Linked DNA regions of Homo sapiens. The protein of the gene in region 1 purifies or fractionates together with the protein of each later gene. This does not show direct contact. Each region holds a gene or a part of one and is shown on either strand. Other genes may lie near its edges.

What was found.
Region 2: the proteins of TRMT10C (region 1) and GRSF1 purify together in Homo sapiens (affinity purification with western blotting; one study listed by BioGRID). This does not show direct contact.
Region 3: the proteins of TRMT10C (region 1) and CAMKV purify together in Homo sapiens (co-immunoprecipitation; one large-scale study listed by IntAct). This does not show direct contact.
Region 4: the proteins of TRMT10C (region 1) and GAB2 purify together in Homo sapiens (co-immunoprecipitation; one large-scale study listed by IntAct). This does not show direct contact.
Region 5: the proteins of TRMT10C (region 1) and NT5DC2 purify together in Homo sapiens (co-immunoprecipitation; one study listed by IntAct). This does not show direct contact.
Region 6: the proteins of TRMT10C (region 1) and HECTD3 purify together in Homo sapiens (affinity purification with mass spectrometry; 3 studies listed by BioGRID and IntAct, with this or other methods). This does not show direct contact.
Region 7: the proteins of TRMT10C (region 1) and ANAPC7 fractionate together in Homo sapiens (co-fractionation; one large-scale study listed by BioGRID). This does not show direct contact.

What each region holds. Positions count from the first base shown.
Region 1 is NC_000003.12:101,560,574-101,564,667, reverse strand, and holds the start of TRMT10C (tRNA methyltransferase 10 homolog C precursor), read right to left. Parts: upstream 2,801-4,094; 5' UTR 2,665-2,800; intron 1-2,664. UniProt on the Homo sapiens protein: Mitochondrial tRNA N(1)-methyltransferase involved in mitochondrial tRNA maturation. Component of mitochondrial ribonuclease P, a complex composed of TRMT10C/MRPP1, HSD17B10/MRPP2 and PRORP/MRPP3, which cleaves tRNA molecules in their 5'-ends.
Region 2 is NC_000004.12:70,826,391-70,829,890, reverse strand, and holds part of GRSF1 (G-rich sequence factor 1), read left to right. Parts: intron 1-1,854; coding exon 1,855-2,039; intron 2,040-3,500. UniProt on the Homo sapiens protein: Regulator of post-transcriptional mitochondrial gene expression, required for assembly of the mitochondrial ribosome and for recruitment of mRNA and lncRNA. Binds RNAs containing the 14 base G-rich element.
Region 3 is NC_000003.12:49,859,907-49,863,406, forward strand, and holds part of CAMKV (caM kinase-like vesicle-associated protein), read right to left. Parts: exon of another isoform or gene 3,469-3,500; intron 2,497-3,468; 5' UTR 2,483-2,496; coding exon 2,388-2,482; intron 2,271-2,387; coding exon 2,139-2,270; intron 1,960-2,138; coding exon 1,885-1,959; intron 1,672-1,884; coding exon 1,533-1,671; intron 1,395-1,532; coding exon 1,274-1,394; intron 1,113-1,273; coding exon 1,037-1,112; intron 947-1,036; coding exon 810-946; intron 644-809; coding exon 565-643; intron 353-564; coding exon 265-352; intron 1-264. UniProt on the Homo sapiens protein: Does not appear to have detectable kinase activity.
Region 4 is NC_000011.10:78,222,321-78,225,820, forward strand, and holds part of GAB2 (GRB2-associated-binding protein 2), read right to left. Parts: exon of another isoform or gene 2,883-3,500; coding exon 2,788-2,882; exon of another isoform or gene 2,752-2,787; intron 2,410-2,751; exon of another isoform or gene 2,290-2,409; intron 1,357-2,289; coding exon 1,092-1,356; intron 208-1,091; exon of another isoform or gene 1-207. UniProt on the Homo sapiens protein: Adapter protein which acts downstream of several membrane receptors including cytokine, antigen, hormone, cell matrix and growth factor receptors to regulate multiple signaling pathways.
Region 5 is NC_000003.12:52,527,373-52,530,857, forward strand, and holds part of NT5DC2 (5'-nucleotidase domain-containing protein 2), read right to left. Parts: intron 1,963-3,485; coding exon 1,778-1,962; intron 1,564-1,777; coding exon 1,489-1,563; intron 1,321-1,488; coding exon 1,265-1,320; intron 1,168-1,264; coding exon 1,074-1,167; intron 940-1,073; coding exon 811-939; intron 702-810; coding exon 641-701; intron 560-640; coding exon 457-559; intron 347-456; coding exon 245-346; intron 4-244; coding exon 1-3. UniProt on the Homo sapiens protein: Promotes dephosphorylation of tyrosine 3-monooxygenase TH which decreases TH catalytic activity and leads to reduced synthesis of catecholamines including dopamine, noradrenaline and adrenaline.
Region 6 is NC_000001.11:45,005,187-45,008,324, forward strand, and holds part of HECTD3 (E3 ubiquitin-protein ligase HECTD3), read right to left. Parts: intron 3,136-3,138; coding exon 3,054-3,135; intron 2,410-3,053; coding exon 2,227-2,409; intron 2,086-2,226; coding exon 2,033-2,085; intron 1,830-2,032; coding exon 1,765-1,829; intron 1,610-1,764; coding exon 1,506-1,609; intron 931-1,505; coding exon 811-930; intron 698-810; coding exon 608-697; intron 1-607. UniProt on the Homo sapiens protein: E3 ubiquitin ligases accepts ubiquitin from an E2 ubiquitin-conjugating enzyme in the form of a thioester and then directly transfers the ubiquitin to targeted substrates.
Region 7 is NC_000012.12:110,379,709-110,383,208, reverse strand, and holds part of ANAPC7 (anaphase-promoting complex subunit 7), read left to right. Parts: intron 1-248; coding exon 249-366; intron 367-1,260; coding exon 1,261-1,457; intron 1,458-3,500. UniProt on the Homo sapiens protein: Component of the anaphase promoting complex/cyclosome (APC/C), a cell cycle-regulated E3 ubiquitin ligase that controls progression through mitosis and the G1 phase of the cell cycle.

The DNA.
Region 1 (4,094 bases):
TTTGAAACACAAGGTAAAATCTTTGTACCAATTTTTTTCCTAGACTCCTGTGGTCTACAGCCTGTGATCACTCATTGAGTAAAAAGTTTAAAACTTAGTTGGGTTCTTGGCCGGGCGCAGTGGCTCATGCCTGTAATCCCAGCACTTTGGGAGCCTGAGGTGGGTGGATCACCTGAGGTCAGGAGTTCAAGACTAGCCTGGCCAACATGGTGAGAAACCCCATCTCTACCAAAAATACAAAAATTAGCCAGGTATGGTGGCAAGCACCTGTAATCCCAGCTTCTCGGGAGGCTGAGGCAGGAGAATTGCTTGAACCCGGGAGTTGGAGGTTGCAGTGAGGCGAGATTGTGCCACTGCACTCCAGCCTGGGTGACAGAGTGAGATTCTGTCTCAAAAAAAAAAAAAAAAAAAGTTGGGTTCTTATTTTAGACATGAATTTCACTATTGCTTTAGCTAAAAGGATAAGTTGAAGATCCTTTTTAGATTTTTATCTAGGGGCCCAGAGAATCAATGTTACTGGGCAACAAAGTTATGTACCACCGAGGCAGCTGACATCATGATGCTGCATACTCCTCCATTCTACACTAAGCCCAGATACAGAACCAAACATAAGATCCTTCACAAAAGCAACAAATAAAGACAAAGGACATGAAAGGTACTGAGAATGGCAACAGGTAAAAAGCACTTAGAAACTGCTGTACCAATGCCCTCGTTACAGAAATATACCAAGATCTACTGATCAAAAAATAGCAACAAATTCTTCCCCAGTTCAGGCTTTATTTTGCAGCAAATAATGTTATTAACAAAGAAAATGTCCAAGATTGAGACAAATGTATATAAATGTATATAAAGCTCCACAGTTTTATCCTAAAAGCCTGGATGTCCATGAGATATTGAAGATGCTTAAAGATGTAAAACTTGTCTCAAATTTGAAGGAAAAGAAATAAAGGGAATTCAAATTTTTACAAAATGCAAATAAAACACTTGAAAAATTCCTTCTTCCCTTGGCTTCATTTAATGACCCTGCACAGGCTCCTAGGTTTCCTGCTCTCTGACCTGTGCACTGATGTCCAGATGCCCCTCCCTTAAAGGTGGATGTAACTCCGCATTCTATCCTATTCTTTTTTTTCAATCTATACATTTCCCTTCTGAGATGTGACCTACTTCTGTGGCTTCAATGACCATGCATTAGAAAGACATCTCAAATGCAGGCCGGGTGCAGTGGCTCACTCCTGTAATCCCAGCACTTTGGAAGGCCGAGGAGGGAGGATCGCTTGAGGTCAGGAGTTTGAGACCAGCCTGACCAACATGGCGAAACCCTGTCTCTACTAAAAATACAAAAATTAGCCAGGTGTGGTGGCGCATGCCTGTAATCCCAGGTACTCGTGAGGCTGAAGTGGGGCGATTCTTCTACTTCCCAGGTACTCGTGAGGCTGATGTAGAAGAATCGCTTGAATAAGGGGGGCGGAAGTTGCAGTGAGCCGAGATTTTGCAACAAAATCTGTTGCAGTGAGCGACAGAGTAAGACTGTCTCAAAACAACAAAAACAAACAAAAAACACCTCAAACGCAACAAATCGAAATAACCCCTCTACCTTTGCTTCACAATCTGATCCTCCTTCAATGTTCTGTTTCAAGGGATATTGCTATCCATTGGTATTGTTCCCAACATATATTTCTAAGCTTATTGCGGCCAGGTCAGCAGCATCTCTAGCTATTCTTCACCTCACACTTCAAGTATTCCACCATTACTTTTCACAGCACTCTGGTGCCTATGACAGTACTTCTAACACTGCACTGTAATTGCCTGGTTATCTATTTGCCTCACTAGATGGTAAGGACTAACTAGTGTCCATGAGGACAAGGACTTTGTCTATAATGTTAACATTGAATCCAATGCTTGACAGTATTTGGCTCACAGTAATCACGCAAATATTTTTCTAATACCCTAGATCGATGCTTCCTTCATTAAAAAAAAAAAAAAGAAAAAAAAAGTTCAGCCTCCCTTTATTATTTTTTTTGAGACGGAGTCTCGCTCTGTCACTCCAGGCTGGAGTATAGTGGCGCGATCTCGGCGCAAGCTCCGCCTCCCAGGGTTCACGCCATTCTCCTGCCTCAGCCTCCCGAGTAGCTGGGACTACAGGCACCCGCCACCACGCCCGGCTATTTTGTATTTTTAGTACAGACGGGGTTTCACTGTGTTAGCCAGGATGGTCTCGGATCTCCTGACCTCGTGATCCGCCCACCTCGGCCTCTCATTGTGCTGGGATTACAGGCGTGAGCCACCGCGCCCGGCTCAGCCTCCCTTTAAAGAGAAAACAATTTACTTTAGAATCCCGGAAATATTTAACTGGGGTCCCCAGGCCCCAATCTAATAAACATTGATTTCAGAAGGAGTTTTAAAAGTTTTATTCTTGTAACTGGCAAGGACTTAGAATACCACAGAAATGAAAACCCCAATTGTAAAAAGCAATCAAGTACATCATTTCAGGAACCACTGATTTTGTTTCAGGTACTGTACTAGTTATAGTTTATTAAAATCACTGGGCTTCCTCTTACCCGTGGGCCTTCCGAACGCACATGCTCCACTAAGTGCATCTTGGAACGTCTCCGGCGTCCTCCCACCCCCAACACACACATTAGGCGAAAGAAGAAACTCGCTTACCAGGAGTGCAGAGATAGTGGTTCCCGCTGGCGCAAAGAACAGGGACCCTGGAGGACGAAGGACTCCGACGTACGGACGCCCAGGGATCCGCGCCGAAGCTAGCACGCAGCCTACCCAACAGTCTACACAGCCGACCAGAGCGGTCGCTGGGGCTCAGCCGGAAGTTCCGCCCTCTCCCTTCCGGCGCTGCTTTTTACGTCACAGCACGCAAAGAACGCTTTCTTGGCTAAAAGAAGCGCCTTAGAGGAGACGGCTGTCAGTAGGCAACTGGGTACTCGAAGACTACGCTCTCAGTTGTCACGGAGTTGTAGCTGTGTTGTGTTGTGTTTTCCTCCATATATCCTAAAAACTTCTTCTGGGCCGGGCCAGTTGGCTTACGCCTGTTATCCCAGTGCTTTGGGCGGCCGAGGCGGGCGGATCACTTGGGGTCAGGAGTTTGAGACCAGCCTGGCCAACATAGTGAAACCCCGTCTCTACTAAAAATACAAAAATTAGCCAGGTGTGGTGGCGCGCGCCTGTAATCCCAGTTGCTCGGGAGGCTGAGGCAGGAGAATCGCTTGAACCTGGGAGGCGGAGGTTGCGGTGAGCTGAGATCGCGCCACTGCACTCCAGCCTGGGCGACAGAGCAAGACTCTCTGTCTCAAAAAAAAAAAAAAAAAAAAAAAAAAACTGTTTCTAATCCTCTTTTCAACCTACTCTCTGTTTGGGCCCTGTATTTATAAACATTTGCTGACAGAGTACTAAAATAAAGTATGTTTTTTTCACACGTCTTCTTACTCAGCTTCAAACTCCTTGACGCTAGGACTTTAAACTCCTAATCTTTTTGACCAGTTTATCACCAGTACCTGGCACTATGCTTGGAACGTGATAAGCCACGGTAAGTTTCTGTCTCCTCCTAGCTCATTTGGAAAGTTTAATGTGAAATGAAATTAAAACACATTTGTAAATTGGTGGCCTTTGGGGCCAATTCAGCCTCCACATATATTTGTAACCAAACACAGAATGAACATATTCTGCAGCCATTCTACTCCTAGTAATATACCCAAAGAAATTGAAAGCAGAGACACAAACAGACACTTGTACTCTAATGTCATTGTAGCATTATTGATAATAACCAAAAGGTGGAAGCAACCCAAATATCCATGAACAGATGAATAGATTAAAAAATGTTGCATGTACATACAATGGAATATTATTCAGTCTTAAAAAGGAATGAAGTTCTGATACATGGTACAACATGGATAAACTTTGGAGGCATTATACACTGAGATAAGCCAGGCACAAAAGGACAAATATTGTATAAGTCCACCTATATGAAGTGCCTAGAATAGTCAAATCATAAAGAAAGAAAGTAGAATAGTGTTTACCAGGGGCTGGGGAAAGGGAAGAATGGGCAGTTACTGTTTAATAGGTATGAATTTTCAGTATGG
Region 2 (3,500 bases), on another chromosome or scaffold:
TCCTTTGAAGTAAACAAAACAGCCATTCCAAAGCCAGTGTTTCAGGATCTACTGATAGAAGTGGTTCAAAGGTTTTTTGGTTTTTTGAGACAGGATCTTGCTCTGTCACCCAGGCTGAAGTGCAGTGCCACAAACACTGCTCATTTCAGCCTTGACCTTCTGGGCTCAAGCAGTCCTGCCATCTCAGCTTTCCTTGTAGCTGGTACCACAGGCATGCATCACCATGCCTGGCTAATTTTAGACAGAGTCTTATTCTGTTACCCTCGCTGGAGTGCAGTTGTGTGATACAGCTCACTGCAGTTGTGGCCTCCTGGGCTCAAGCAATCCTCCCACTTCAGCCTCCCAAGTAGCTGGGACTACAGATACATGCCACCACACCCAGCTAATTTTTGTATTTTTGTAGAGACGGGGTTTTGCATGTTGCCCAAGCTGGTCTCACACTCCTGAGCTCAAGTGATCCACCTGCCTCAGCCTCCCAAAGTACTGGGATTATAGGTGTGAGCCACTGTACCTGGTCTCCTGGCTAATTAAAAAAAAAAACAAAAAAAAACTTTTGTAGAGATGGTGTCTCACTTTGTTGTCCAGGCTCAAAGGTTTTTTTTTTAAAGAAGTAGTGCTCATCTAATCTTTATAGATTTGTAAACACAAGCTAGTTTTATAACTCTTAGTTTAGAAGGCCATGTTAAGAAAAAGGAAACTGTGCTGGGCGCGGTGGCCCATGCCTATAATCCCAGCACTTTGGGAGGCCGAAGTGGGAGGATCACTTGAGCCCAGGAGTTCAAGAGCAACTTGGGCAACATGGCAAGAACCCATGTCTACAAAAATAAAAAATAAAAAAATTAGCAGTGTGTGGGCTGGGCATGGTGGCTCATGCCTATAATCCCAGCACTTTGGGAGGCTGAGGCAGGTGAATCACCTGAGGTCTGGAGTTTGAGACCAGCCTGGCCAACATAGTGAAACCCTGTCTCTACTAAAAATACAAAAAATCAGCTGGGCGTGGTGGCGGGCGCCTGTAATTCCAGCTACTCAGGAGGCTGAGGCAGGAGAACTGCTTGAACCCAGGAGGCAGAGGTTGCAGTGAGCCAAGATCGTGCCATTGCACTCCAGCCTGGGCAACAAAAGCAAAACTCTGCTTCAAAAAAAAAAAAAAAAAATTAGCAGTGTGTGGTGGCAGGTGGCAGTAGTCCCCAGCTACTCAGGAGGCTGAGGCAGGAGGATCACTTGAGCCTAGGAGGTTGAGGCTGCAGTGAGCCATGTTCACACCACTGCACACCATCTTGGGTGACAGCAAGAAACCCAAGTTTCAAAAAAAAAAATTGTTCCAGAAGCTTGGGTTTAATAGATAGTCCCCTCCTGTGATAGCAAGTCATAATTGATACTTAGTTCTTGAATTCTCAGCCTTTTAGTGAAGTTCTGGGGAAGTTAGCTCTTCTTTTACTGTGACTTTTAATATCTTATACAGATATGATTAATTTGCACAGAATTGAATTTCAGAGCTTCAAGAGATTGTTAACCAGCAATTTAAAAAACCCTTATGAGATTAATTTTTTCTGTATACACAATTAACTTAAGCATAGTTGTTCTCATGAAGCAAAACAGAGTAGAAAATATTATTAAAATGTATGTGAAGAAAAAGTGTTACCTTGATGCAAAAACTTAAATCAGTGACCTACTCTGTTGTATATTTTCATGGGCTACTATCTGTATGCATTATTAGTTTTCCCTACCTGTTATCTTTTGACACCTGTGTTTCATAAGCTGTTGGAAATATAATGTATACATGTTTATTTTAAATGAGTTCAGTATAAAGTTACTTTGCACCATTTGTGCCTGTTTACTTTTGCTTTGACATAGATACATCGAGATATTTCCAAGCAGAAGGAATGAAGTTCGAACACATGTCGGTTCTTATAAGGGAAAGAAAATCGCATCTTTTCCTACTGCTAAGTATATAACTGAGCCAGAAATGGTCTTTGAAGAACATGAAGTAAATGAGGATATTCAACCCATGACAGCTTTTGAAAGTGAGAAGGAAATAGGTAAGGTCCTGCCTCTTCTTGAGACTCATTGGGTCTATCTTGAATGTTTTGGGTTTTGTGATTTTTTTTTTTTTGAGATGAAGTCTCGCTCTGTTGCCAGGCTGGAGTGCAGTGGTGCGATCTCGGCTGACTGCAGCCTCTACCTCCTGGGTTCAAGTGATTCTCCTGCCTCAGCCTCTTTGAGTAGCTGGGACTACAGGCGCATGCCGCCACGCGCAGCCAATTTTTATATTTTTAGTAGAGATAGGGTTTCGCCACGTTGGCCAGGCTGGTCTGGAACTCTTGACCTCAAGTGAGCCGCAGCCTCCTAAAGTGCTGGGATTACAGGTGTGAGCCAACACACCCGGCCTAAAGATTTAATAGGACTTTACATACTTTGAGTATATGCAGAAAGGCTTAATTATTTTGCTAGGTTTTTAATTTAATCATTTTTATTAACTATATCAAAAGCTGGGTAGTAAAAATGTGATAAAAGGAAGTAAGATGTCAACATTTAAATTAAGATGGGGGAAGATTTGGATAATGAGCAGGAATATTGACTGAAGTAAGGATTTTTTTTTTTTTGAGACAGAGTTTCACTCTGTTGCCCAGGCTGGAGTGCAGTGGCGCACTCTCGGCTCACTGCAGGTTCCGCCTCCCAGGTTCACGCCATCATCCTGCCTCAGCCTCCCGAGTAGCTGGGACTACAGGCGCCTGCCACCGTGCCCGGCTAATTTTTATATTTTTAGTAGAGACGGGGTTTCCCCGTGTTGGCCAGGCTGGCGTTGAACTACTGACCTCAGGTGATCTGCCGGCCTCTGCTTCCCAAAGTGCTGGGATTACAGGCATGAGCCACTGTGCCCGCCTGAAGTAAGGATTTTTGTTTGCTTCTGGATTTAATTATTTCTTTGATTCCTAACCCAGGGCAACATTTGGAATCTTTTAAGTTTCATAAATACTTTTTAAACTGGTACCCTGGGATTATCTTGTCACTATATATATGTGTATATATATTTTTGTTTTTTGAGACAAAGTCTTGTTCTGTGGCCCATTCTGGAGTGCAGTGGCACAATCATGGCTCACTGCAACCTTGAACTCCTGGGCTCAGGCAGTTCTTCCACCCCAGCCTCCTGAGTAGCTGGAACTATAGGCATGCATCACCATGCCCAGCTAACTTATTTTTATTTTTATTTTTTGTAGAGACAGTGTCTGGCTGTGTTGCCCAGGCTGGTCTCGAACTCCTGGGCTCAAGTGATTCTCCTGCTTCAGCCTTCCAAAGTGTTGGGATTACAAGTGTGAGCTACCACGCCCAGCCTTTGTTCTTTTTTTTTTTTTTCAGTGCCTATAATCTAGAAAGTCTCTTTTAGGGTTTAATTCATAATCATTTTACCTGCTCTCTGATGTTACAAAAAGGGCTAAGTTCTTAAACTGGTAATGGTCTGAGGCATTCAGTGCTTATGGGTGTTCAGGTGATATTTGTTG
Region 3 (3,500 bases), about 52 Mb from region 1:
CTAAGGGTGAGGCTTGCTGGATCCATTGCTTGGCAGTGACCAAACCAAACTCCTTCCATAGTACCCCCGGCCACCTCCATCCACCCCAGGGCCAAGTACTCAGCTGCTCAGCACTCCTACTTAAGGTAATCACAGTGGCTACACCCACACCTGATGGCCTGAGAAAAGCTTGTGTGTGGCTGCAGGGGTGTGATGCAGGCAAGAAACTGAGTGCCAGAAGCAATACTTGGGATAGAGCCAAGAAGGGAGTTATCCAAGCCTTACCTTCCACTTGGCCCTGGCAAAGTTCTTTTCAATCTGGGCACAGACACCATCCTTGATGTTCTTATCAGAAGCAGCATTGCCAGAAATCCTGGAAAGGGTGCAAGTGTGTCTGGATCTGAGAGAATGAGCCTTTGTGGAGACTCTGCTCAGCCCTTCTATGTGGCATCCAGGGACTACCAGGCAGAGCCTCTGGGCTGCCCTGAGCTCTAGGTACCTGCACCCCTTCCAGGCCTCAAAGATGGGGCTGCTGGGTGTGAGGGGGACCCTGGCCTCTCCCACCCTCCCCTGGACCCTGCTCACCACTCATGGGAGATGGCCTCTTCTGCAGTGATCCGCTGGTCTTGCTCCACCTCCATCAGCCTTGTGACCAGGTCTTTGGCTGTGGACAAAACCAAGAAGGGGATAGTCATGGGCACCCCATCTCAATGTCTAGAGGTGATAAATGGGCTGGGGGACAGAAGCAGAATACCACAGAGGAAGATGAGAGCAGGACACCCTCCCCACTCCCTTGCGTTCTACCAAGTGCTGGGCAGGCACCTCCTCACCTGCCTGCGAAATATCATCCCAATATGGAGAGTCAAACTCATAGTCACCAGCCAGGATCTTGCGGAAGAGATTCTTATCATGGTTCTCATAATCATCTTCTTCCACCTCCTCATAGAAAGGTGGATTGCCTGAAAGCCTGCATGGGGGAAGGGTCACACAGAAAGGCCACAGACACATGCCCCCACCCCATCTGACTGCAAGCCTGCTTGTCCATCTGTCCACTCACAGGATGTACATGATGACTCCAATGGCCCAGCAGTCCACAGGGCGTCCATACCGCTGCCGGCCTACCACCTCTGGGGCTACAAACACAGCGCCCATCTGCTGGTCAGTATCAGGCCTAGCCAGGTCCAGTACCATCCACACCAGCTTCCTGAGATGAGCACATTTTCCCCCTGCCCAGAGCAGCTCCCTGAAGGCTGCCCCCCATTATCCCCCTGCCCCTGCCCCACCCCCTGCTTGCCCAGATACTCGGGGGTCCCACAGGGCTCCTTGATGAGGCCATTTTCTAGCTTAGCCAGATGGAAGTCACTGATGACAATCTTCGAGTTCTTCAGCCGGTTGTAGTAAACCAGGTTCTCCAGCTGTGGTGTGAGAATAGCATGTGGGTGAGCAGAAGACACCATGAGGACCTTGGAGGCTAGACCAAGGCCCTGAGGTGCTGCCCACCCCAGCACCAGCCCAGCTGCCAACTGGCCCTTTGACTCTGGCTCTGCCCTCACCTTGAGATTCCTGTGCACGATCTTGAGTGAGTGCAAATAGGCCACGGCCTCCAGGACTTGCCGTACCACGTTGCTTGTGTCTCGCTCCGAGTAGTAGCCCTGGTCCAGGATCCAGTCAAACACCTCCCTCCCCGTGGCCCTGAGGGACACCAGCCCCTGAGCCTGGCGTGGGCAGAATCAGGGGTAGGGCAGGAGCACTTGGGTGAGCTGCCTACGCCAGGCAGCTGGCTGAGCAAGGCACAGGGACCTGGGACGCCAAGGGTCCAGAAAGGGGGTTTCCTTAGCTGCAGAGGGTGGGACAGGTGAAAGCCCTGGGCGCTGGGGAATCTTGGGTCCCCAGACCCACACTCACAGCTCCAGGAAGATAAAGTACTCCTTGCGGGTCACAAACACATCCACCAGCTGTAGGATGTTGGGATGCTTCACCCTGGCGACAGGGAGGGGAGCCAGTAGTTAGGGCTGGATGAACCCCTGGGAGAGGCTGTGGTCACCACAGTGGCCACAGCAGACTAATTGGCCAGAGGCTGGGACTGCCTGAGGCCACTTGCCCTCTAAGCCCTTCCCTGCTGCCTCCCACCCCGCCCCAATCCCAGGCCTCAAACTCACATCTTGAGGATGCCTATCTCGTTCTTGGCAGCTTTCCGCACCTTGCGGCCGTCCCGCTTCTGGAACTTCTTGCAGGTGTGCAGCTTGCCTGTCGTCTTGTCCTTGGCCCGGAAGATTTCACAAAACTCCTCACTGCAGCCGACAGGCACCCACTCAGGCCTGGCCTTAGCATCAGCTGCACTCCACTGCCACTTCCCTAGCCCCTGCTCACCAGCCCACCCAGCCTTGCCTGACAGGCCCGGCACTCACGTCTTGATGACCTGTCCCAAATCATATCTGTCAGTCACCTCCGATGGCTGGTTATAGTTCTTCTTGTCGCCCAGAGTCACACACCCAAACGGCATTGCCAGGCTCTAACCTGCGGGCACAATGGGGTCTGGCTTAGCTGTACTACTCTCCACTTCCCCACAACATAGGGGCTGCTTTTGGGAGACCCCAACCTGGCTCAGGCCAAGCTAGGGGCAGAGACCATACCAGGAGGGGCTAGAGGATAGGCAGGCTTAGATCCTACCCCTGCTTTTCTGGCTAGACATCCAGCTACTCAGCTTGGCTGCCTGAAGTGCAACAGCCTACATATGAAAAAATGTATTAAGCTGATATATAAGGGAATAGTTTTGTATTCTATACATTCAAAAAAAAGGCTTATCAAACAGTTTATTTAAATTTCAGCTATTTTACAGATGAAGGGGGCTATAACCACCCACCCACCTGCTAGTCATCTCTGAAGGTCTAGAGCTAACAAGTGTTAGTGGATATATGAAGAACGTGAGCACTGCTAGGAGAGGGCAAACTCCCCTTTGTAAAGCAGTTTGGTAAAACCACTAAAGTCAAACAAACATACCCTATGAACCAGCAATTGCACTCCTAAATACGTGCCTACAGAAGTGCACATATTCGTGCATCAGGACAGTCATACAATGCTCATAGTAGCCATATACATAATCGCCAAAAATTGAAAACAGACCAAATACCACCACCAACAGGATGTATTGTGGTAGAGTCACACAATGGAATATTATATAGCAATGGAAACAAAGGAGCTACAGCTATACCCAACCACCTGGTGACTCTTACACAGTGTTAAGTGCAAAAAGACACAAAAGAATACATATAGTATGAGTCTATTGATAGAGTTCAAACAGGCAGAACAAACCCGTAAGGGGGATACAAACACAGCAGTAGAGCTATAAAGAAAAGCTAGGAAATAAGCAGAGTCAGATAATGGTCCCTTCTAAGAGAAAAGGAGGGGTTATGATTGATTCAGGACACATGGGGGGATTCTGGAAGACCTATTTCTTTTCTTTTCTTTTCTTTCTTTCTTTCTTTTTTTAGAGACAAGTCTCACTATGTTGCCCAGGCTGG
Region 4 (3,500 bases), on another chromosome or scaffold:
ACTGACGCTCAGCGAGGTTGTATAATCTTTGCCCATATTGATGAGCCTTGAAGTCATGTCTTCAGATTCCAAATTATATATTCTTTCTGCTGTATCTATGGTAATTATATTTTCAGAATCAAAAGTGGGGACACAGGGTTTGACAACAGATTTTTCTCCCTCAATTTATGACTTCATTTAAAAATAAAAGACTATATATAAAATATATTTATATATTAATATATTAATATTTATAAAAATATATACTATTTATATATTAACACACATATATGTATTTTTTAAGACGGGGTCTCACTCTGTTGCTCAGGCTGGAGTGCAGCGGCGCAATCTCAGCTCACTGCAACCTCTGCCTCCTGAGTTCAAGTGATTCTCCTGCCTCAGCCTCCCTAGTAGCTGGGACTATAGGCGCCTGCCACCACGCTTAGCTAATTTTTATATTTTTAGTAGAGACGGGGTTTCACTATTTTGGCCAGGCTGGTCTCGAACTTCTGACCTCAGGTGATCCACTCGCCTCAGCCTCCCAAAGTGTTGGGGTTACAGGCGTACAGGCGTGAGCCATGGCGCCCAGCCAAGAGACCATATTTGAAGTATAGATGGTCACCGTGACTACTCCCTGCTGCTCCTGGCCAGGTCGGTGCAAGCCACAGTGGAGGAAGGTAGATGCCATAAGGGCTTGAGGGCTTCAGTTCCAAATGCTAAGATTTGAATTCCCTGTTGGCCAGACCCACAGGGGGCTATCTCTGCCTAGCTATCCTACTCCTCCCTTTGAATCCTTGCCACTGATCCAATGCCAGGAGAGTGAGATTGTAGCAGACGAGGACCTTGCCTGGTCTACATGCAGGGGGCACAAAGCTGACTTTACTGAACGCCTGCTATGTACCAAAGTACTATCCTAGATGCTCTCCTTTGCAGCAAACCTGGGAGGTAGGAATTACCATCTGCATTTCACAGATAAGAAAACTGAGACTCAGATTTTACATGATTTGCCCCAAGTCACACCTCTCAAGTCCAGGATCCACATGACCCCTAAGCAAATGGAAAGAGTCCCTAGCCACTGTCCAGAGATGGGACAGGGGAAAGAATGGACTTACCTTTCCGATCAGGTTTGAGGTTGCGGTTGACAGGGGGTGGCTGAATCTCACTTCCTCTGCTGGGGCCTCGGTGCACAGGAAGGGTTGTTGATGGGTAGCCAAGTGAGTCAAAGTGATGGGCCCCTGGGCTCATTGGGATGTAGACGCTCTGGGAATTATCACCTGCTCGTTCCATGGCCAACAGGGTGGAAGAACCTGGATTCATGGGCACATAGTTGTCTTCAGAATTGGTGCTGTCCGATCGGCCCACAATCATTTTCCCTGGCTAGGGAGAGGAACAGTGAAAGAAATACAGCTGTTACTAGCAAGAAGAAACAGGAAGGGGGTAAGACTTTGTAAATGAGGCAAGACAAGTCATGACTGGGTTAGCTATACTTTGAAGCTGTAAGGGAGACCTTGGGGAGACCAAATAAGAAAGCAGAGTAGTGGGAGGCTGAGGCAGGTGGATCACTTGAGGTGAGGGGTTCGAGACCAGCTTGGCCAACATGGCAAAACCTCCTCTCTACTAAAAATCCAAAGTATTAGCTGGGCGTGGTGGCATATGCTTGTAGTCCCAGCTACTCAGGAGGCTGAGGCACGAGAATCGCTTGAAGCTGGGAGGCCAAGGTTGTAGTGAGCCAAGATCATGCCACTGCACTCCAGCCTGGGTGACAGAGTGAGACTCTGTTTCAAAAAATAAAAAATAAAAAAAAGGAAGCAGAGTGGGAGACAAGAATATATGAGGTCTGTGGGCCCCTTCAAGCCTTCACGATCCTTTGGCATCCACTAATAATTTTTGATAAATCTAGAGTATAAAATATTCTTGGTGACTGGGTCCACTTGGCTTTCTGGACGCCTGACCAACACTGTGGGTGGCATAGTCCATAGACTGTAGGTTTGGTTCAGGACCTGCCCTCCACCTCAAGTCCAGACTCACCACTGGCAGGTCAGCATCTCAGGCCCTGGATCAGAACAAGGAGCATATTAGGAGTCCTGGCTCTGGAAGGTGAGGTCTGGGGCCAGTTGTGTTTCCCCAGTCCAGGTTTCTAAGTACCTGGGGCTCACTCCAGGCACCTAGGGGACCACCAAGCTGCAGTCAGAGCTTCTACAGAGTTGTGTGATACAGCAATCCCAGCCTTCCTCTAACTCTTGCTCTATCTGCCGTGACATACAACTAAGCTGCTTCTGCCTTGGTTACCTGATTTCACTGTCTTTTCAGTGGGCCTGAAGCCAGGCCCTGGTCTTCTTGCCTGACACCTTGGAGAACTGCGGTTAGCATCTTCCAGAGGGCAGCCTGGGATCCTGCACTCAAGCCATAATTCTGCCACTTAGCCTGACTGTGAGTACCACCCTTGCCTGGAGTCTCACACTGCAGCCTCCCTCCTGCATGTGAGGCCACGTGGGTAAGGTTGCTGTCTTAGAGGTTCCCCCACCGTGCAGCCTGGGTCTATTGCATTCTAGATCCTCTGCTTACCTACAAGGTTGGTGAACCTTGTAATCCAGTCTACCTTAGCACATACATTTCTTCCAGACTAGAATACTTATATCTTACTTGTCCAAAGACTCAACGCAGGGTTCTGAACTGAGACAAGAACTTGGGCAGGGTCCTAAGATGGAGACGCCATCAATCTTTTGGGGTTGTGCTTTTAATTCCATAAGGTGTGACCTTTTACCTAACCAGGCCGGCCTGAGGACCCTTGGGTTAACCCACACTCACCAGGAAAGAGCCAACTCCATCACTCATGGATTCAGCAGACCGGCCTGCACTCTCTCCACCACGCTGTGGGTACTCGTAGGTCTCACAGGAAGAAGCTGACAGAGGAAGGAGGATTCATAAGTACTCATGGTTGATTCATGTGTTGACACTTACCCATACCCTCACCAGTGTGGTTCAAGGTCTTACTGATACTCCAGAAGATACTACTCTCAACCCCAAATGATAAGGAATTTCTTCGAACACATCACTCCTCAGTTCAAAAATTCCTCCTGGGCTTCTAGATGTAGCTCCAGTGTTAGCATCTGCAGAGAAGCTGTCCTTGACTACTCTACCCTCATCTATGCACCTCTCCTTTGACTCCTACACCACTCACCTGTCCTGCTCACCCCAGCCATCACTTCTCTGAACACCACAGTAACAATACTTGTCCTGATTTATATGTGTTGGTTTTATTTTCCCAATGAGATGTAAGCTCTGAAGGGCAGGAACATGTTTTATGTATGTCTTTATCATCTCAGTTCCAAAACGGAGTATGACTGCTCAAATTGTCGATGGATTGAAAGACGGCAAAGAGGTCTAAACTAGGAGCTGGGACTCTAGGGTCTGAGTCTCATCTCTGGCACAATGACTCTGCAACTCTATTTAAGTCTCTTAACTGTCATTGGCCTCATGTGAGATGGAGACAAGGAGGTTTTGTCCCACCAACCTCTCTG
Region 5 (3,485 bases), about 49 Mb from region 1:
GGCCTGGGGTGCAGGTAAAGGGCATGACTTCCAGTCTGTGGCTGGGCCACGGGCCGGGCAACCCCCATCCCTCCTCCGTAAAGGCCCACCTGCTCAAGTGGACCCATGCCAGCAAGGGGGTGTTCTCACCCCAAGCACATTGGGCAGTGGGCAAGGGCCAGGTTGGCCTCCTGCTTCAGTCCCCTCATTGGGGTGGGGCCTCTATTCCCCTTCCCTGGCCCTGCAACCCCCACCATGCCCATACTTGCGCCGGTCAGTGAAGAAGCTGGGCTTGTCTGCCTGGACAATGACCACATCGAAGAGCTGGCGCCAATCGGGACCCACCATGTGCCGCATCCCCTTGTCTCTGTGTGGAGGAGTTTCAGGTGGCAAGTAGTCTGAGGGCGGCTCCGTGCCTGCCCTCCCCACCCAGAGCCCTGGCCCTGCTGTCCCTCCATCCACAGGGGCTGGACTCACACGAAGCTGAAAGGACTGTTGGTGATGAGGAACAGCTGTTTCCCATGGGCCACCAGGCGGCTCAGGACAGCAAACGTCTCATCCCCTCTCAGGATGTACTTCTCTAATGGGGCAGATGAGTCTGTGAGGGTCAGTCCTGCCACCTGCTCAGGCCGGCCACGGCAGGGCTTCTGTCCACACTTACCCATGTCCTGCTCGATCCACTGGTACATGAGGCCCTTCACATGCACGTCTCGGATGGCGTCCTGGGGGCAGTGGAGGACAATGAGGGTACAGCAGGGCCCAGGTGGGGCTGTCCCACTGTGGCTGGACTTAGTCTTTCCTGCCATCCGAGGGCAGGCCCAGCATCCTCACCGTCACGTCCTTGTAGAGATGTGCTTGGTCAAACTCCAGGCTGTGGCCCAGAAAGTAGTCCACCACACAGGACAGCAGAGCCATCTCCGGTAGCGAGAAGATGTCCATGAACTGCTTAATGGAGGGACCCTGGGGAGGGGGCCATTGTCTCAGACACCCTTTGGGACCCCAACCCCTTCAGTGCTGGAGACGAGGGCCCCAAATCTGCCTTGGGACATGGGCACATGTCCATGGGGCAGGCTGGCTGCTGGGGTATGGAGTACCTTGCCATAGAAGCCACTCATCTGGTATAGTGGGATGTGCTGGGTACCCCCATACAGCTCAATCACCTCCTCGTCTGGCACAGGCTGGAGGCCCCTGAGCAGGCCCAAGATACCATCAGTCCAAGGTAGTCCTGAGCCAGAACAGCAGTGTAGGGTGGGGCGGGGGTGGGGTTGGGGCAGAGCCGACTGACCTGTAGGCTGTCCCCAGCTGCACGTAGTGGAAGGCGTCAATCTTCATCAGAAGGCTCTGGGGGCGCCAGGGAGGCAGGACGGATGGTGAGGAGGCAGTTTCACCGTGGCCCCAAGCCAGCCTCTTTCAGCCCATGCCAGAACCCCAGCTGGATGGGACGGAGGGGTAATGACCATACCAAGAGGAGGCCAAGGAGGGAGCCCCTATACAGGTCCAGCCACTCACCTTCTGAATGTCATAGTGGAGGCCACGGATGGCAAAGCTGGGGTTGTAGTCATACTTCCGAATCCCTTCTGGGTACTGCCGGGGGAAAGGGGCCAGGCCTAAGCCAATAGCCCTGCCAGACCTGCTGGCTGGGTGGCCACCCCAGGGGGTCAATCCAGCCACCTGCCCAGGGCAGCTGCCAGGCAAGAGGGCCAGGGGAGCCCCACGACTCAGCCCTGAGCTTAGGCCAAGGTGGGTCTGGCCAGCCTCCAAGCCCTGGGTTTGTTGGTGGCAAGGACCCCCGTCTCACCTTGTAGTGCTCGATCAGGATGTCACGGGCGGTACTGAAGATCTCGGGGTGCAGTGCGTCTGCATACTGGGCCAGGGTGTAGTCGTAGTCAAAGCCGTAGACCTCAACGTCACGCAGGCTGATCTCGTTGTTGGCGTAGATGGCTGCTGGGTTCAGGAGACTGCAGACCTCGGGGGGCAGGAGGTCTAGAGGAAGGAGATGCAGGGAGGCAGTGATGGGGATGATGATCCCTGCAGCAGCTATGGCTCCTGAGCACTCTGTGGGGACCTAGCCCTGTGAGCCTCAGAAACGCCCCACAATGGCACCTCTTATTCCAGTGCTGGAGATGGTCAAACAGGCCCAGAGAGAAGTCACTTGCCCAGGGTCACGCAGTTAGGGTAAGGCAGAGCCCCTGGCTGGAGCTCCTCCTCATGGTTACACCTGCCTACATTACACTATCTCCTATAGCCCACCAGGTATACTGAGCCCGTGACTACTCCAGGCCCTCACCACTAAGCCCCATCAGACACAAGGCCATGCTAGAACCCTGGCAGCAGTCACTCAACTCCTCACCGCCTAGCCCCAGAACAGCTGCTTTTGGGATGCTCTACAAAGCAAAGCCTCCCACTTGCTCAAAACCCGTGCAGGAACACCACTGTCTGGCCCCCCACAATTCAGCGCCTCCTCTGCTCCTCTCAGCTGCCCTGCCCTGCCCCCTGGCCTCATCTCTCAGCCTCCCTGGGATTATGTGTGAGGATACCATGTGGGCACTGAGGACTCCAACCCAGAGGGGCTGGCTCTGTATGGCCAGACTAGGGGGTTGAGGCCATGGATGCTGACTTTTCTACCTTGCCCAGAGCTGGGACTGGGGCTCAGGAACATTAGTGGGAGGGGGAGCCCCTCTGCCGATCGGGCTGCCAGCTCTGTGCACTTCCCACAGCCCAGGGAGAGTGAGGCCCCTCTAATCAGATTTCAGCTGCCCGCAAGCCCATATAATGACATTTGCTGGCTCTAGCCAGGGAACATTGCTAATTACGACAGTCAGGACGTGATGTCAGGTTCTGGGCCATTATCCAGGTTGCTCCTTCTGGGGATGTGGTCGTGGCCACCCCAAGTCCCTGGCTGCTCCCAGGAGGCTGCAGTTGGCTTTGAGGCCCACAGCAGGGTGCTGAGCAGAGCACTGTGTGGCATGGGCTCTGGGGTCCCAAGGAGGCAGATGGGGCTGAGAGGCCCCATGTTACCTGCCCTGGTTTCCCTATGTGTACAATGGAGAAAGTGGAAGGGAAAGGAAAGGGAAGGAGATGTGCTAGGAAGGCCACATGCAATGAGGTCAGCCAGACAAGACCAGGCCCTCCCTCTCATGGCTATGACTTCAGGAATGTCACCTCACCTCTTGGGCCTGTTTCCTAGTTTCTAAAAGGGTACAAAAAATTGTACCAAGTGGGGCATGGTGGCACACACCTACAGTCCCTGCTACTCAGGAGGCTGAGGCGAGAGGATTGCTTGAAACCCAGTAGTTCAAGACTGGTCTAAGCCATATAGCGATACCCTGTCTCTGTGAAAACATTTTTAAAAAGAAAAAAAAAATTGTACCAACCTACAGAATTACTAAGACTGTCATATGGAAGGTGCTGCTCTGTGCAGCAATCTCACTCTGCACCTGCACATATGCAGGATTAAATGGGTGATATGTTTCCTGAGCCTATGAGCATCCTGTCCCCAATTTCCC
Region 6 (3,138 bases), on another chromosome or scaffold:
TCTGCATTCTATCCTAAGCCCAGGGCCGAGCCATCAATGAGTTTAAATAAGGAGAGTGAAATGAATTACTGTGGCTGCATGGAGACCAAACGGGTAAGAACGGAGACAGGGACACCAGCTTTTTAGTAAGTGATTAGCTAAGGAGGAAAGGTGTCCTCAACCAGGCAGGGAGACAGTAGTGAGACAGGAAAAGCAAACAGATTACAGAGGAAGACTTAAGAATATGGTGGCGAGGGAGAAGAAGGGGTGAAGGATGGCCCTGTGGGCTTTGGGATGGGGAGGAGTGGGACATGGTGCCCTTCTGAGGCAGGAGCCCTAGAGGGGAGTAGTCTTCGGAGAAGATAAAGAACACACTGAGCCTGAGATGCCATCTTGGGGCAAACGTCGAGGGTACAGATACATATATGGCCCCAGGCTTAGGAGAGGCTGGGGCTAGAGGTCAGGATTTTAGGGGTCACGAGTCTACAGACAGTAGTTGAAGCCATGGGAGTGGATGGATTGGAGAGGGATCTTGTGTGTGGTGAAAGAACAAGGTACAGAACAGCCTTAGGGAGGACCAACCTTTAGGGGCTGGGCAGAGGAAACACTGGTTCCAGGTCCTACTCACCAGCACAGAGTCCACAGCTGGGAAGTCCTTGCTCCAGCTCACCTCCTCACCAGAAAGCTGCTTCCACACAAAACCAGGCAGGGCCAGGACCTGTGTGACAAACACTCCCCACTGTCTTCTCACCCTGAGCTGCCCAGGTTTGGCTGGCCTTTCCTTCCAAGGGCCAGGGCTGATCGGACGGGGGTGTGGATAAGGCTACTCACCAGGAACTCCTTACCCCGAAGGGCAGCCCCCATCAGCTGTCCGATCCATTCATACTTGGCAAAGTCTCGGCAGGAGGGGTTGGGTACATACATGTCCCGAGCCTCACCAGTGCCATTGCCCTGCCCCAGAGACAGAGCTGTGAGTGTGGCATGAGATACACCCTATTTTCCTGGCCCAAAGACTTCCCTGAACATTTTCCACTGGGAACATTTTCCACTAAATGATCCCTTCAAATGCACAGTGGCTCCTCCTCTCCCTGTCTGCCCAGAGGTTGCCCTGAGCAACTCAGTCCCTCCTCTGCCCTATTTCTATTTTTTTTTTTTTTTGAGACAGAGTCTCACTGTGTCACCCAGGCTGGAGTGCAGTGGCGTGATCTCGGCTCACTGCAACCTCCGTCTCCTGGGTTCAAGCGAGTCGCCTGCTTCAGCCTCCCATGTAGCTGGGACTACAGGCGCGTGCCACCACGCCCGGCTAATTTTTTATTTTTATAGAGATGGGGCTTCACTTCATTGGCCAGGCTGGTCTTGAACTCCTGACCTCGTGATCTGCCCGCCTCGGCTTCCCAAAGTGCTGGGATTACAGGCGTGAGCCACTGTGCCTGCCCCCTTTCTAGCTCAATCTGGCCCCCTCCTCTGCCCCCTTTCTAGCTCAATCTGGCACCTGGGAGGTTTGCAGAGATGGAAACGGAGATTACCTGGTTGGCTGTGCGTACAAAGAAGGGCAGGGGCACGGGGGTATCCGCTGAGCTAGGGCACAGCTCTTCTGACATATCTGCCAGGCTGTCCCGGAAACCACCCCCTGAAATGACAGATGCCCTCAGCTGGGCACTCAAGAGCCCAGCTCCCATAATGGGGTAATGAATAGGTCCCCCATCATCATTAGCTGGTGAAAAGCCTCTACCACTTTGATAGGGCAGCAAGCAGGACCCTTGAGATCCTCCCTCAGGGCCTCACCTTGGTCAATGATGCCTTCTGCAATAAATTTACACTCCCACCACTGGTCATAGCGCATGGGCCACCTGCAAAAAACGTGGGCAGATTTGTCATTATGTGGGGCCAGGTGCAGCACAATTCATCAGCTCAGAGACCACCTGGGAAAAGCAGTCATGGCGAGGGGTGCCTCGAGCAGTTGTGTGTGTGTGTGTGTGTGTGTGTGTGTGTTTGTGTGTGTTTGTGTGCACAAACAGGTGTCCCGAGTAAGTCCCTCACTCTCATGCCATACCTGTAGTCCAGGGGCTTTTCATATTTGTCAGAGGGCTTGAGGCCTTCATATACCTGGAGGCAAGGAGGAAAGGAGTCATAGGAAAGCAAGACCTGGCCCTATACTTGCCCCAAGAACTTGTTCAGGTCCCTCTTGGCCTAGCCCCCTTGGCCCTTGACTGATCCTATCTCAGTCGGACCCTAGGTGGTGCAGACCTGGGTGAAGACTGCATTCTTGCAGGCAGGGTCTCGAGAGGGGCAGGCACGGTGTTCCATGGCAAGACGGCGGTTGATGTATAGGCGTGGCATGAAGCTGGGCTTGCTGCTCTCAGAGTCACGCAGGCACTGAGCCACCAGGCCTGGCCGCTGGCGGGACAGCAGTAGGAACTGCTTCACTTGCTAGTGAGGAGAGGTGGCCAGAGCAGGAATGAGTGGGCAGTCAGCCTCCGTCCAGGCCCTGGAACTTTCCCCTCTGCCTGTATCCAATTCCACCGTTTCAGTTCAAGTCTAGTCCATCCCTGTCTTTGTCTCCAGTCCCCTCCTTAGTTCAGCCACCAGGGAGAGCTTTCTAAAACAAAAAAATCTAATACTGTCATTACCTTCCTTACCTTTCCAACAGCTCCACTACCCTGGGACAAAGTCCTTGCTTCACAGCCTGGCCCACAGGGCCCTCTGCAACCAGGACCTGTCTCCTGCCCACATCCTTCCACCCTCATCCCTCTGTCATACTCACACCTACTGGCACACTTTTCTCAAGACATCTTGAGCTGCTGGTAACTCCCTGTATGTACCTTTCACGCAAACTGCCCTGCCTGTGCTGTCAATAGCCCTTGGGTATTCCACACACTCTGGAATACCAAGGAGGCTGGGGAACAGCCTCCCAAACACTAAATTTGGACCATTTGTTCTGGCTTTCTTCCTATGTTCCCAGACCCAGCAAAGGTCTTGCCCTAGAGTAGATTTTAGGAACTCTGCTAAGGAATGAACAACTACGTGAGCAGGAAGGGGAAATGCCAAGACCAGCACTGGCTGGGTCGGCTCACCTTAATCTCACTGAAGGTGCCCAGTGTGTGGTCCCAGGCAGGTACCAGGTGGTGCAGGACACTATCGAGGATCTTGATGAATCTG
Region 7 (3,500 bases), on another chromosome or scaffold:
CCTCGGCTTCTTAAAGTGCTGGAATTACAGGTGTGAGCCACTGTGCCCAACCTGGGTTTTGCATTTTAATAGTCACTTTGTAGGAAACTGGAAATAGTAGTTGGAGGAGCCTGTGATGGTGGAAAGGGCTTAGCCCCTGCAGGAGCTGGGGCCTCAGCATGGGGTCTGATGTTGGGTGCTACTCCTGTATGTGGGACCCCTGCTTCTCTTCTTAAAACACCTCTTCTCACTATGTCCTTCTCTTCTAGGAATGGATGTATATGGCTACCTACTGGCACGAGAAGGGCGGCTAGAGGATGTTGAGAACCTTGGATGCCGCCTTTTCAATATCTCTGATCAGCATGCAGAACCGTGGGTGGTTTCTGGGTATGATTATGCATTCTCTTTTCTCCCCAGTTGTCAGTAGATTAAGAGATAATGGTTGCTCTTGAAGAGAATATAAATTGAAAGCACAGGTTTAAGAGGTAATCACCTGGACAGGCATGGTGGCTCATGCCTGTAATCTCAACACTTTGGGAGACTGAGACAGGTGGATTGCTTGAACCCAGGAGGCAGAGGTTGCAGTGAGCCAAGATCGTGCCACTGCACTCCAGGTGGGCGGCAGAGTGAGATTTTGTCTCAAAAATAAATAAATAAAAATAAAAAGAGGTAATTACTTGAGGCCAGAAATTTGAGACCAGCATGGGCAATGTAGCAAGACCCTGTCTCTATAAATATATATATATATATATATATATATATATATATTTTTTTTTTTTTTTTTTTTTAAAAGGATAATCAGCCCTGGATTCAAATAATAGTTTATGACTCTGGATGCATTATTTACCTATCTAGGTCTGTATTCTCATTTGGAAAATGGGCTAATAACCTCTCCTTCTAGGGTTAAGCATTAACTGAGTTGGTGAATGCATTGTGCTTAGTACTGAGCCATCAGTGATGGGGCCAGAAGATGCTCCTTTGTTTATTAACCTGGCTTTACAAATTCTCTGAATGCCTCTCTGCTAATAACTAATATCCAGATCATAGGTTCTTTTTCATAATTTTTCTCTTCCATATCAAGATTTCCCCTTAAAAATAAATAGTGGATTTTTTGGTTTGTTTTGCTTTTCTACTAATATCTTAGGTTAAAACTATAAGTGTGGTTTGGAATAAGGATTATGTTCAGGGCCTTCAATATGATTTTTGGATCAACTTTCTTTGTAGTCTTCTCTTGGATAACTTCTGGGGTTTTTGTGTTTTTTTTTTTTTTTTTTTCTCCAGCTGTCACAGCTTCTATAGCAAACGCTACTCCCGGGCCCTCTATTTAGGAGCCAAGGCCATTCAGCTGAACAGTAATAGTGTTCAAGCTCTGCTACTTAAGGGAGCAGCACTTAGGAACATGGGCAGAGTCCAAGAAGCAATAATCCACTTTCGGGAGGCCATACGGCTCGCACCTTGTCGCTTAGATTGTTATGAAGGTAAGAAAGAAAACATAGGTGAATGGTGTGAATCCGTGGGTGTGGCAGCAGCCCTCAGATGGAAGGTTTCATTAGGCCAGCACTTCCCAAACTCTGTTAGAATAATCTGGGGAAGCTGGCCGGACGTGGTGGCTCACACCTGTAATCTCAGCACTTTGGGAGGCCGAGACGGGCAGATCATGAGGTCAAGAGATTGAGACCATCCTGGCCAACGTGGTGAAACCCCGTCTCTACTAAAAATACAAAAATTAGCTGGGCATGGTGGCTCACACCTGTAGTCCCAGCTACTTGGGAGGCTGAAGCAGGATAATCACTTGAACCTGGGAGGCGGAGGTTGCAGTGAGCCAAGATTGCGCCACTGCACTCCAGCCTGGCGACAGAGCAAGACTCCATCTATTAAAACAACAACAACAACAACAAAAAAACATCATCCGGGGAAGCTTTTCAATATCCTGACGTTGGGTCTCTCCAGTGTAGATGGAAATACATGGAATTGGGAATAGACATCGATATTTTTGGAGGTCCCCAGGGGTTACCAATGTGCAGACAGGTTTGGGAACCACTGCATTAGGCATTTTACATTTATTTAGGGCTTTCACTGGATTTGTCACCCCATACTTTCATAATCCATTTTTTCTGATTTTTTTTCTGGTTTTTGGTGAGGGTATAGTTGGGATGGGGTTTTTTTTTTTTGTCCTCCCACCGCTCGCCCCCATCCAGTGTGGCGTACTCATTAATATGAATCTCTCTGTGTCAGACACCATGCAAGATCACTTAGTTTGCCTATTTTTTTTCTCTTACTCCTCTTTTTTTTGAGACAGAGTCTCGCTTTGTTGCCCAGGCTGGAGTGCAGTGGCATGATCTCGGCTCACTGCAGGCTCCACCTCCCGGGTTAATGCCATTCTCCTGCCTCAGCCTCCCCAGTAGCTAGGATTACACCTGGCTAATTTTTTGTATTTTTAGTAGAGACAGTGTTTCACCGTGCTAGCCAGGATGGTCTCAATCTTCTGACCTCGTGATCCGCCCGCCTCGGCCTCCCAAAGTGCTAGGATTACAGGCGTGAGCCACCGTGCCCGGGTCCTGTTTTTTTTTTTTTTTTTTGAGACAGAGTCTCGCCCTGTCACCCAGGCTGGAGTGCAGTGGCATGATCTTGGCTCATTGCAACCTCCACCTTCCGGGTTCAAACCATTCTCCTGCCTCAGCCTCCCAAGTAGCTGGGATTATAGGCGCCCACCACCACACCCAGCTAATTTTTGTATTTTTTAGTGAGATGGAGTTTCACCATGTTGGCCAGGCTGGTCTCGAACTCCTGACCTCGTGAGCTGCCTGCCTTGGCCTCCCAAAGTTCTGGGATTACAGGCATGAGCCACCACAACCGGCCTATTTTTTTTATTTTTATTTGAGATAGAGTCTCACTCTGTCACCCAGGCTGGAGTGCAGTGGTGCAATCTCAGCTCACTGCAACCTCCACTTGCCGGGTTTAAGTGATTCTCCTGCTTCAGCCTCCTGAGTAGCTGGGATTACAGGCATACACCACCACACCCAGCTCATTTTTGTATTTTTAGTAGAGATGGGGTTTCGCCATGTTAGCCAGGCTGGTCCCGAACTCCTGGGCTTAAGTGATCTGCCCAATTCAGCCTCCTAAAGTGCTGGGATTACAGACGTGAACCACTGTACATGGCCTGTTAGGCCTATTCTTTTTCGTGGCCATCTTACCTTGGGCCAGAGTTAGTACTCGTGGGATAACTCCACATCCATATGATAGTGTTGGCTGTGGGAATGGGTCTGTTCATTGTGACCTCCAGAGTGGGCACAATCAGGGTCCAACTTTGTTTTGTTATGTAATATTTTAAGTTCATGTGAATTGACCCTGGGAGTTCAAAGGAGCTGTGCCAGTTTCAGCAACGTTTGGTGACTCAGTCACAGACATTAAAATAGATCTTACAAGATGCAGTTCCTCCAAAACATATTTTTATAAGCATTTAAAAATAAACCTAGGAGTCTAGGAGTGATTTGCTCTTAACAGGAAGATGAGTTCAAATT